Regions from separate parts of the Homo sapiens genome. Here region 2 is linked to region 1. The links come from fine-mapping of genetic effects on gene expression. A gene starts in region 1. The other region holds a variant in brackets. All regions are shown on one strand. Distances are from middle to middle. Region 1 holds the start of SC5D (sterol-C5-desaturase). Region 2 holds the start of LOC105369533 (a long non-coding RNA gene).

Region 1 (5,385 bases):
TCTCAGTTTAGAATCTTCCAAGTGAATGAGGACTTCTAACTCTGTTCAGGTCAAATGTAGCCCTCTCAGAGAAACTGACTGACCATGCTGTCTGAAGTTAACAGCTTCCGTTAATTTTGATTCTCTTACCCCATTTTCTTTTTCTTCATAGCACTGTCCGACATTGTATTATATATCTATTTATTTATTATCAGTTTTCTGTCTCCTTACTAGTGTGTAAGCTTCATTAGAGCAGACTTTGTTTTGATTATCAGTATATCTCCTGTGCATATGACAGTGCCTGACACTTATCACCATTACATAATGATTTATTGAGTAAATAAATTGAGTAATTTAATGATTAAATGGTTTGTTTCCATGTTCATGTTCCATCCAGACACATAGGCAGGTATTGTGGCTTATCTCTGAATTCCTTGGTACTGGCTGGTTGGTACCATAGACCCTTGCAAACAATGAATAAATAAATTACCCTGATCCATCAGTGTGCCTGGATAGAAAAGACATGTAGGAATGCTGCACCCCAGGATGTGCTATTAATACACTTATACACCACGGAATACTATGCAGCCATAAAAAAAAGAATGAGTTCATGTCTTTTGCAGGGACATGGATGAAGCCGGAAGCCATCATTCTCAGCAAAATAACACAGAACAAAAAACCAAACACCACATATTCTCATTGAGTATGTGGGAGTTGTTCAACTGTGGGAGTTGAACAATGAGAACACATGGACACAGGGAGGGAAACATCACACACCGGGGCCTGTCAGGGGGTGGAGGGCAAGGGGAGGGAGAACATTAGGACAAATAACTAATGCATGCAGGGCTTAAAACCTAGATGACGGGTTGGAAGGTGCAGCAAGCCACCATGGCACATGTATACCTATGTAACAAACCTGCACGTTCTGCACATGTATCCCAGAACTTAAATAATAATTAAAAAATACACTTAAATTTATTTTTAAACAAGATTGTTCTCTTGAGGTTAACTTATTACTACTTTGAGTTGTCAGGAGTGATTGCAAATTTCTTGGGAATCCCTAAGTCACCAAGAATAAAGACCACTTGTAATAGCTAAGGCATATTCAACAATAAAATTCTAGAGATTCAGGATATTTGATGTTTGCTTATAACATTTCACTTTTGAGCTTTTATTCGTTTAATAAATGTTTTATCATCTATGCTCAATAACATTTTAAAGTGTCCATTCAAATCATTTCATTGGGCAAAACAATGTTCCTTCCCTAATTTCCCTCATCAGAATAGCCATTTTGTCTCTGTGCTCAGCCTATACCACCAATTACTGTTTATTTCCTGTCCTTGTAATAAGCAACATAGTTATTTATACATGCCCATTTCTCCCACAGCACATAAGCTTTTTAAGGTTGGGAACCATGTCTTTGTCATTATTGTAACATCTCTTTCCATTCCCGGTGTTCAGTACGATGTGTTAAACGAAGTAGACACTCAAAACTTTTTAAAATTTATTTTTATTTATATAATGAGTCTTTTTTAAAAAAACCACCTACACTATTTTAAATTCATTTGAACTTTGTCCAGTATCCTATGTACATTTGAAGTTTAACTACCGGAAAAGTCTTTTGAAGGCAGATCGAATCATGTTATTTTTTTCCCTTAAAAATCCCTCATTTCTGTCATGTATTCCCCATATTATTTATGTAATAGGTAAAGTGGCCCAGTTTGCCACTTTGAAGTTGCTGAGCTGGTATCACAAGTCAGTCCCCTCTGTTTTAATCTCTGTTTAAGGAAAGTCACTCTGAAACGACAGATCTTTTGGTTCCTTATTTCTGCTTTCCTCCGTCCTCTTCTGCCTGTGAAGCCACCCTCCTCTGCTCAGCTCTGTTTCAGGAAATCGGAGCTGCTCGATTCATGTGTAGCAAATCAAAGCCAATTAGATCTGCGTTAACCTTGGTTTTCAACAACTTGTATCGTGAAAAGGTTTCTGTCCATGTTTACCCTCATCTTGTCACCATTTAGACCCCTACATACACCGGCTCGCGGAGCCTCCAGCCATTCAGCGCTAGAAAATCGGGGGGACTACGTCTTAAAACCTTGAGCACCTGTTTGGGAACATCTGCACCTCCTCCCTTGAGGGAGAAAACGACCCAGACATTCGCGTCAAAGGAAGTGTCGTCTATTTCCCTCAACGCAGGGCACCCGTTCTAGGAATGTTTGTATAAACACCGTAAACCTGCCTGGTACCACCATGAATGACACAAGAGCTAGTTTAAAAAGAAAGCAAAGAAACAAACGCAAAACCCGAAACCGCATCCTCCACCGCAAAGGTACTCGGATGGGGCGCCCGCCCTCCCCTTAGTCAGAGGACAAAGGGGGCGTGGCCGAGCGCGCGGCGCCCACGTGACCGCGGAGAGCTGCGCGCAGGCCCTTCGCGCGATCTGCCGTCATATCAGCTTATGGCGCCGGTCGCTGATTGGCTGGCCGCTCCAGCCTCCCGGCCCGCTTGCTGGCTGCCCAGCTGCTAGGACAGTTTGCAGAGCAGTGGCGTGCGGAGCGGCGGCGGACCACCTCCAGGTGGGGACGGTGGGTGGGCGGGGAAGGAAGCGGAATACACCTGAGCGGGCTGGGCCGGGGGGCGATGGAATAAAAGAAGATGGAGAGACTTCAGCGCCTGGGACTCGGGTGGGCGAGGCGGAAGGTGTCCTCGCAGCACGGCTTTTCTCCGCGCCGCGGTTGGTTAGCGAGTGCCCTCTGGGTGCTAGGCGTTGGGCGGATGGTAGGATCGCGGTAGCATACGGATCCGAGTCCTGCGCCGAGTGAGAGGAGAGGCTGGCAGGTAGCCTGGCATCCCGAAGACTGGCGGCGAGGGCTGGGCCGGGGGACCTCGGGGCCTGGAGGGCTGCGCCACCTGGGAGTCCGGGCGGAGGGGCCTTCCGCTCGCGCTGGGAGGGATCGCGGGGCCGATAGGGAGGCCTGGACTTGAAGGAGCCGACCGTGGACGGGCTTAAAGAAAATGCAGTGTTTGATGTTGGGTGTTGCAGATCTCTTACTCAAGGGAATTCTGGTCTGGCTGCTGAACACGAATGCTTTACTTTTCCCTTCGTTCTGGGAGGGTTTTTTTCTTTTAAAGGCCAGAAGAATCAGGCTGAAGAACTGGTCGGTATCAGAACTCCTGACCATTGCAAGCCTCTGTTGCTGCGGCGTAATTAGAATGAAGGGACAGCAATCTGGGGCTGAGGAGACTGAAAGGAAAAGGGAAATAATCTGTTCCTTTTGCATCATAAAAGGAAAAATAATGTATACTGACATCCCTGTGTTACAGCAGAGTAGATTTGGAGGTGGTGTAAGTGAAGAAAACAAGACCTCAGTACATAGAGTTTCCAAACTGGAAAGTTTGTGGCAGCTCGGTACTTTTAGAGGAAACCCTCTGGAAGTTATTTGTCTTTATATCACTATCATTTTTTAAAGTTTCTAATGATTGATACCTAGTAAATAATAACTGATCCTTGATCATTTACAGAGTGCTTTTCCATTCGTTATGTAATGTAATTAATTAGCATGGGGTGGTACTCAGAATCCCTCATCTGCATATAAAACATCTTGAGAGATAACATAACGTGGTAGCAAAGAGAAAGGTTGTGGAATGTACATCCCAGCTGGTTTTTTCTGTTATTGTTGCTTGCTACTGAACAAGTTATTTAAATACTCTGACCTCAGTTTCCCTATCTATAAAGTGGGGAGCATAGAAGTACCTATCTCATAGAGGTATAGGGATTAGATGAGGTTATACAAAAATAATACCTGGTTCTCAATAAATATTAGCTATCATTTTCTATACTTTTAAAGTAGGGCAAAAAGATAATGGTAGACTGAGTTGTTCTAAGCCTAATATTGTTATTATAACTGAGTTTTAAGAAGAAGTTTCTTTAATTCTGCAAGGACAAAGTATTTAAGTTTCTGTTTGAAGCAGTGGTACTTAATTTAGGGTCCTTGGGACCCCTAACTTCAGGGCTTATAACCCCTTAAAATTATATGAGCTTGTAGAGGCACTGAACATTTTTAAAAATTCAGGAGTTGACGACTTGAAGTAGTGGTGAAGAGGCTATAGAACTTGGCAGAAGTTCACGTACTTTGCAACTAGATTGTGTGTATTTGAATCCTAGCTCCAGCATTTATTTACTCTTATGACCCTATGCAAGTTACTTAAAATTTCTGTGCCCAGCTTCTTCATCTATAAAATAATACTAGTACCTACCTTTGAGGCTTCTTGAAAGGGAAAATTAGTTAATATATTTAAAATATTTATATTACCTAGTATATATTAAATATTACTATCAACTACTGTCAGTTATTTTTCAAACAAAAATCAAGTGGCACCTATTTTATCTTCTATTGAAGTAATTTTGACGCATTTTTGACGGCCTTAACAGTGATAATCATATAGATGCTATTTTATTGAGTACCTTTCTTGGGTCAAATGTCAAAAGTCTACTTAGTCTCTAAACCTCACAGCAATCAAACATGTTTGTGTTCTTTTTGGTTGCACGATACTATTCTAGGTATTGTATTGAAGTAGGGCCACATGGCACTGTGGGGAACATGTAGATTGGCTCATCAGCTGTTACCAACCTTTAGTGATATAGCAATATCCTTTTCAATTATTAAATGTTTATGTTATCTGATATTACGTAGTACCCTGTCCCTGCTACACCACCTCCCTTGGCAGTCTTCACCCCTATAACTTCAACTACTACCTGTATACTAACCAGGCTCGCTTTTGAACTTCACATTTATATTTACATGTGGCCTATTGCTTATATCTAAGATAGAAGATGAGCCACAGATAATTAGGTTTTAAGATCTACATTGAACCCGTTTTGAACCCCAGATATCTGAGACAGGTCTCAGTCAATTTAGGAAGTTTATTTTGCCAAGGTTAAGGATTCACCCGTGACACAGCCTCAGGAAGCCCTGACAATATGTGCCCAAGGTGGTCGGGGACACAGTTTGCTTTTATACATTTTAGGGAGACATGAGACATCAATCAATATGTGTAAGAAGTACATTGGTTGGGTCTGGTAAGGCGGGACAACTCACAGTGGGGGCTTCCAGGTTAGAAGCAGATAAGAGACAAAGGTTGCATTATTTTGAGTCCTTGATTAGCCTTCCACTGAATGCACACATTTCGTCTGGCTCAGTGAATCTGCATGTTTACATAAACAATAGGGCAGAGGAAGCAATCAGAAATCCATTTGTGTCAGGTGAGCCTCAGAGGGATGACTTTGAGTCCTGTCTGTCCTTTATCCACAAAGGAATTTTCTGAGGGCAAATTGTGAGGGAGGGATGTAGCTTCTCATCCTTGTAGCTGTCTTATTTAGGAATAAAGCGGGAGGCAGGTTTGCCTAAC
Region 2 (5,385 bases), 55 kb before region 1:
GGACCAGTGCCTTTAAAGTGTTGTCTGAAGTAGCAGGATGATGAGAGGTGAATAAAGATTCTTTTGTGTAGTGAGAGTTAAGCAGGACTACAGTAATTAAAAAGAAAATTGGGGAGGGGGTTGTTAGTGAGGAATACACGGCAGATGTAACTGTTTCTCATGGAGCCCTTGAGGAGATATTGTTAGGAAATGCCAACAACTGTGGGATGGAATGAAAACCACCTTGGGGACATACATATCCAGGAACATGGTGGACTAGATAGCCAAAACATTCCTTCCAGTGCAAACATCTGGAAATACAAGATAAAATGTGATAATCATATTGATAAAAGTATAAATGACCTCATAGAAGGTCAAAGAAATTCTCATCATTCAAAACTAAAAGGGAGCTGGAAATCAGAATAGAAAGCTGACAATAAAACCTTCACTGCCTCCCATGCATTTAGCAATGTTGGTAACCTAAAAGTGGTTATTTTAATGGCTACTGGGAGACAGAAGATGAACTTGCCAGAGCAAGGGAGGATCCTTGGAGAGCAATACCCATGATGACAATGGACCAACTAAAAAAACTCACATCAGAGCAAAGGAAACCAGAAGTAAATTTTTCTGGTTTGGGCTGGGTTATTAGTAGAAAAAGAAAGTCGCCTTTGAGAATTTGTAACCACAGGTCTATACAAAATGACTCTGAAGTTTGGATTTTTGTGAACATAATTCATGGTTAAGAGACATGTAGGTGGCTCTCACCAGTAGTCCCAGCTACCCAGGAGGCTAAGGTGGGAGAATCACTTGAGCCCAGGAGTTTGAGACTGCAATGAGCCATGATCATATCACTACCCTCCAGCCTGGGGAACAGAGTGAGTGAGATCTTGTCTCTAATAAAAGAGAAAGTGTTAAGGAAAAAAGCTGAGCGTTGGGAAGAAAGCTGAGGTGGGGCTTGCGTGACTGACATAATGTCCTCTGGAATGTGTCTAGACTTGCTGGCTCCTTGCTTCTAGCCCTCCTAGGCTCCTAGATCCATTGTATTTCCGTTATCTCAAGTAGCAGAACATGTTCCATATAAATGCTAAACTGTCACAGCTGTAGATCATGTGCCTGCCCTTTTGACCTCCACATTCTCACCACCTGTTTCTTTGTTGGATTACAAATAAATAGCGGGGGCTCCCAGGGCTCAGGGCCTTCACGATCGTGATGGCCCGCTGGTCCCACTTCTCTGTCTCAAACTGGCTTTTTCTCAATCCTTTGACTCCGCCGGGCTTTGTCACCCCCATGACCTGGTGTTGGGTCTGATCACCCCAACGTTCCTGGCTGCTCAATGTGGGGTGACAAAGACCCCGGTGAAGGAACGCTAGAGCGTGTGAAAGCAGAGGACGCATCATCAGAGGACACCTGAGGATGTCTAAAAGAAGCTCAGCAGGAAAGCTGAGTGCTGGGAAGAACCAGGGTAGCAATGGGACAAAGTGAAAGCAGACATTCTGCTTATTTAAATTTCTTAAGGCGTTTATTATGAAGAGGGGGGAGTGAAAGTTAGTGCTCAGAATTTATCACTCTTCAGTGCAGTAAAGCAGTTTTGCCCATGGTTCCCGGAACAAGGGACTATGGAGTTGGATGAATGGGAGAGAATTGGCAGAGATTTTTAAAAAAACATATAAAGGTGGAGCAAATATTCCAGTCTCGGTTTGGTCAATGTGGGCACTAATAAAAGCAGCTCTTGAGCCATTTCAAACAGATCATGAGGCAGATTCAGATGAGGAAGAGGAGGGCGAGTGTAAAAAACTAACTTCAGATTCTGAATGTGAGGAACAGAAACCGGAGGAAATCAAAGAAAGGGAAACCGAAAAAGGTATGTTTTACTAGCCCCTCAGCTCCACCTGCTGAATTAAGTGAATGGCCACCTCCTCTCTCTCCCCTTAGTGGGCGAGAAAATGAATTAGCTACAAAACTTACCGCTCCTGTAGTTGCAACATTAAAACCTGGAGCAATTGGTAGTACTAAGACCCAGTGGAATCTGAGGCTTGTTTATTTAGAGAGCACCTCAATAAACTGAGGCATATCCGGCACAGCCAGTGCCCTTACAAACGGCAACAATTGTCTCCCACCGCGGCGGGCAGTGCTGCCGTGGACCTTTGCAGCACAGTTCTCATTTCCCTGCTTCCTGGGAGCCACTGGAGAGGGTCCCCACGGGAGTTGGGGGACCCTTGCCCTCAGGAACCGTCGGTCTATTACTTGAAAGATCTAGAGGTGGCACTGTGCATACGGAAATGATTGGTTCTGATTATACCAGAGAAATTCAATTAGTTATTAGTTCCTCAACTCTGTGGTCTGCTTCCCCAGGAAAAAGAATTGCTCAGTTGTTGACATAAAGCTGGGAAGCAGCACAGTGAGAAGAACAGGAGGCTTTGGTAGTACTAATCCAACAGGAAAGGCTGTATTTTGGGTTAATCAAGTGTCTGACAAAAGACCTATTTGTACAGTAGACCTGCTGTTGGATGCTTACAGACTGACACACAGGCCTGGTTGGCAGTAGTCTCCGGAAAAAATAAATCATGCGCTGCTTTGCGTAGGGCAAGT[C/A]AAGTCATCTTGAAGCTTCAGTTTCATGTTTAACCTGCCTCTGCTGGAGAAAAACAGATTTAATAAGCACACAGGCATGATATGGGCTGAATGTGTTCATTGTGGTGTTTGTGGCCTTTATGATGGGAATGTTCAACCTCTACTACTACATTGGTGCAAAACAAAGTGAAGCCTTCACAACAGAGTTTTAAGACACTGCTCTAGGCTATATTTGGACTTTCTGAAGTGAAATCAGTGGTCATCAACTATAACCACAAATTCATTGAAAACATTGGTTATGTTATTTATGGAGCCTATAATGTTACAATGGTCATTGTTTTGCTAAGTATGTTAACTGCCATGATCAACAATTCATTCCAGGGAATTGAGGATGATGCTGATGTGGAGTGGAAATCTGCAAGGGCCAAACTCTGGTTTCCCTGCTTTGGGGAGGGGAGAGCACTTCCTGTTCCCTTCAATCTGGTGCCAGGTCTGGGGTCCCTGTTTTGTCTCTTGCTGAAGCATAAAGGGTGGATTTTTCAGCTCTACCCAGGGTCATAAAAAAGGTTTCCAAGAAAGATGCAGAGATAAGTCAGTAAGTAGAGATAAGTAAGTGGAGACAAGAAAGTAGAGACAAATAGAGACAGAGACAAATAGAGACAGATAGAGATAAGTAGAGAGAGAGAGAGATAAGTAGAGAGATAGAGATAAGTAGAGAGATAGATGAAGACTAGCAATATAAGATCAGTGCCCTAGTAGAGGTTACTGATCAGTGCCCTAAAGAGGTACAAAAGTAGAGACTAGCAAAGACTAGCAGAGATTTGCAGGGACAGACAAGAACATTCTGAATTATGAAATTAGCTATGGCTCAAAGGGCAAATATAAAGGGAATAGAGGGGAGGGAGGCAAGGATAAAAATGCTCTTTCTTTTCTCTCCAACAGGACCTTTTGGTCCTTTAAATAATCAAAGGGCAGATGCACTGGTGTCTGCAGTCTTTGCTGATGCACAAGCATTCCATTCTTTAACTCATCTTAATGCTGCAGGCCTTAGAAAAAGATATGGTCACATACAAAAAGCTGGCAAAAAGGAAAGATAATTATATGGGGAAGAGGAGTTGCTTGTGTCTATCCAGGTGACAATCAGGAGCCTGTGTGGGTGCCCACCAAACATCTGAAGATCTATCATGAGCCACAACATCTAGTGGACCCACCTGTATAATGCGAATTGAAGGTTTGAAAAGCCTCGATTTGCTTTCTCTGTGCCTTCTGTTAATCAGAAAAGACCTGTTTCCCATTATCAGTTGAAAGTTTTACCTCGCAGTAATTAATCAGAGGCAGAAACTGAGTTAACAAATGCTTCAGCAACGGCATGGTCCCGGCTACAGCCACAGAAGTTTTTGCTTCTGTTTCAGTAGATTTACTAACGTGGGGGGTGAGGGTATACTTGTGCTTTTTCGGGAGATGAATGAACCATGTGGATGCCTTAAGATGTGTACGACCATGGAATGGGAGACTGGAGGGACCCATGGATCCCAACCATGCACTGAGTTCCCCCAGTATGAGCCACGAGCCAGTTGAATCTGAATGAGAAGATGCAACAAGGGCCGACCAGAGTCATGATGCTTAATGGACCAATGCTTTCTGACTCAGCTCCTCTCTACCTTGAATACAAGAGACCCTAATGGTTAGGCAGGAGTATCATTGCCCCTATTCAGTATAAAGAAGTTACAGAAGATGGACCTTCATCATTTTGCAACCCCTAGGATTAAGGATCCTCTTGTAAAAGGGAAAGGGGAGATATGTGGGAAGCATTCAAACCAGAGTGACTCTAGTAATAATGATGGCTAGTAATAATGGTAGTAATAATGATACCTTCTTTTACAAAAAAGAGAAGGGGAGCATGTTGGGAAAAATGCTGAGGGTTGGGAAGAATGCTGAGATGGGGCTTGCGTGACTGACATAATGTCCTCTGGAATGTGTCTAGACTTGCTGGCTCCTTGCTTCTAGCCCTCCCAGGCTCCTAGATCCATTGTATTCCCATTATCTCAAGTAGCAGAACATGTTCCATATAAATGCTAAACCGTCACAGCTGTAGATCATGCACCTGCCGTTTTGACCTCCACATTCTCACCACCTGTTTCTTTGTTGGATTACAAATAAATAGCGTGGGCTCCCAGAGCTCAGGGCCTTCGCAGCCCCCATGATCATGATGGCTCCCTACTCCCACTTCTCTCTCTCAAACTAGCTTTTCTCAATCCTATGACTCCACCGGACTTTGTCACCCCCATGACCTGGTGTTGGGTCTGATCACCCCAACAGAAAGAGCGTGATAGATAGACATGCAGGACAGGATGAGAACAAGGTAGAAGAAATAAATACATGATGGTTGAGAATTTTGCAAAATTGATGGAAGGCACAAATCCTCAGAAACAGGAAAAGAAATCATGAGTAAAAAGATACACAATAGTAATGAAACTGCATAATAAAGATAATGAGATTATCTTAAGAGCAGACAGAGCAAAGACAGATTATCTACAGAGGAATAGTAATTGACTGCCAACAGGCTCTTACCCGCAAAAACAGAAGCCAGAAAACAGTGGAAAACAATTAAAATGCTGAGCCAAAAGTAAATGTTGTTATGCCCCAAGGAAAAATGTATTTCAGTAATGAGGGGTGAATAATATTACAGGATCTTTGGGTTTTGAATTTCTTCCCAGAAACTTGTGGCCAGTGGCGCCTTTACAGTTCTTGTTCTGCATCCAGGAAGAACGAGATATGCAGGCAAGTGAGGGGTGAAGAACATCAACAGGAGCTTTATTTCTGTTAGAACAGCTCAGA

The links. PIP is the estimated chance that this variant, and not a neighbour inherited with it, causes the effect.
Region 2: its variant is the best candidate, but not a certain one, in a credible set for the expression of SC5D in atrial appendage (GTEx, PIP 0.68).

What each region holds. Positions count from the first base shown.
Region 1 is chr11:121,290,265-121,295,649 of GRCh38, forward strand. SC5D (sterol-C5-desaturase) reads left to right here and starts at 2,507. Exons shown (of 5, transcript NM_006918.5): 1 at 2,507-2,552. RefSeq lists enhancers at 2,249-2,298, 5,012-5,385 and a silencer at 2,469-2,518.
Region 2 is chr11:121,235,630-121,241,014 of GRCh38, forward strand. It overlaps LOC105369533 (a long non-coding RNA gene), which reads left to right and starts at 1,174. Exons shown (of 3, transcript XR_948108.3): 1 at 1,174-1,840. It also overlaps the pseudogene TRPC6P5. RefSeq lists enhancers at 519-1,058, 947-1,136, 1,059-1,598, 1,599-2,138, 4,344-4,892. The variant C/A (reference allele first, on the strand shown) is at 2,569.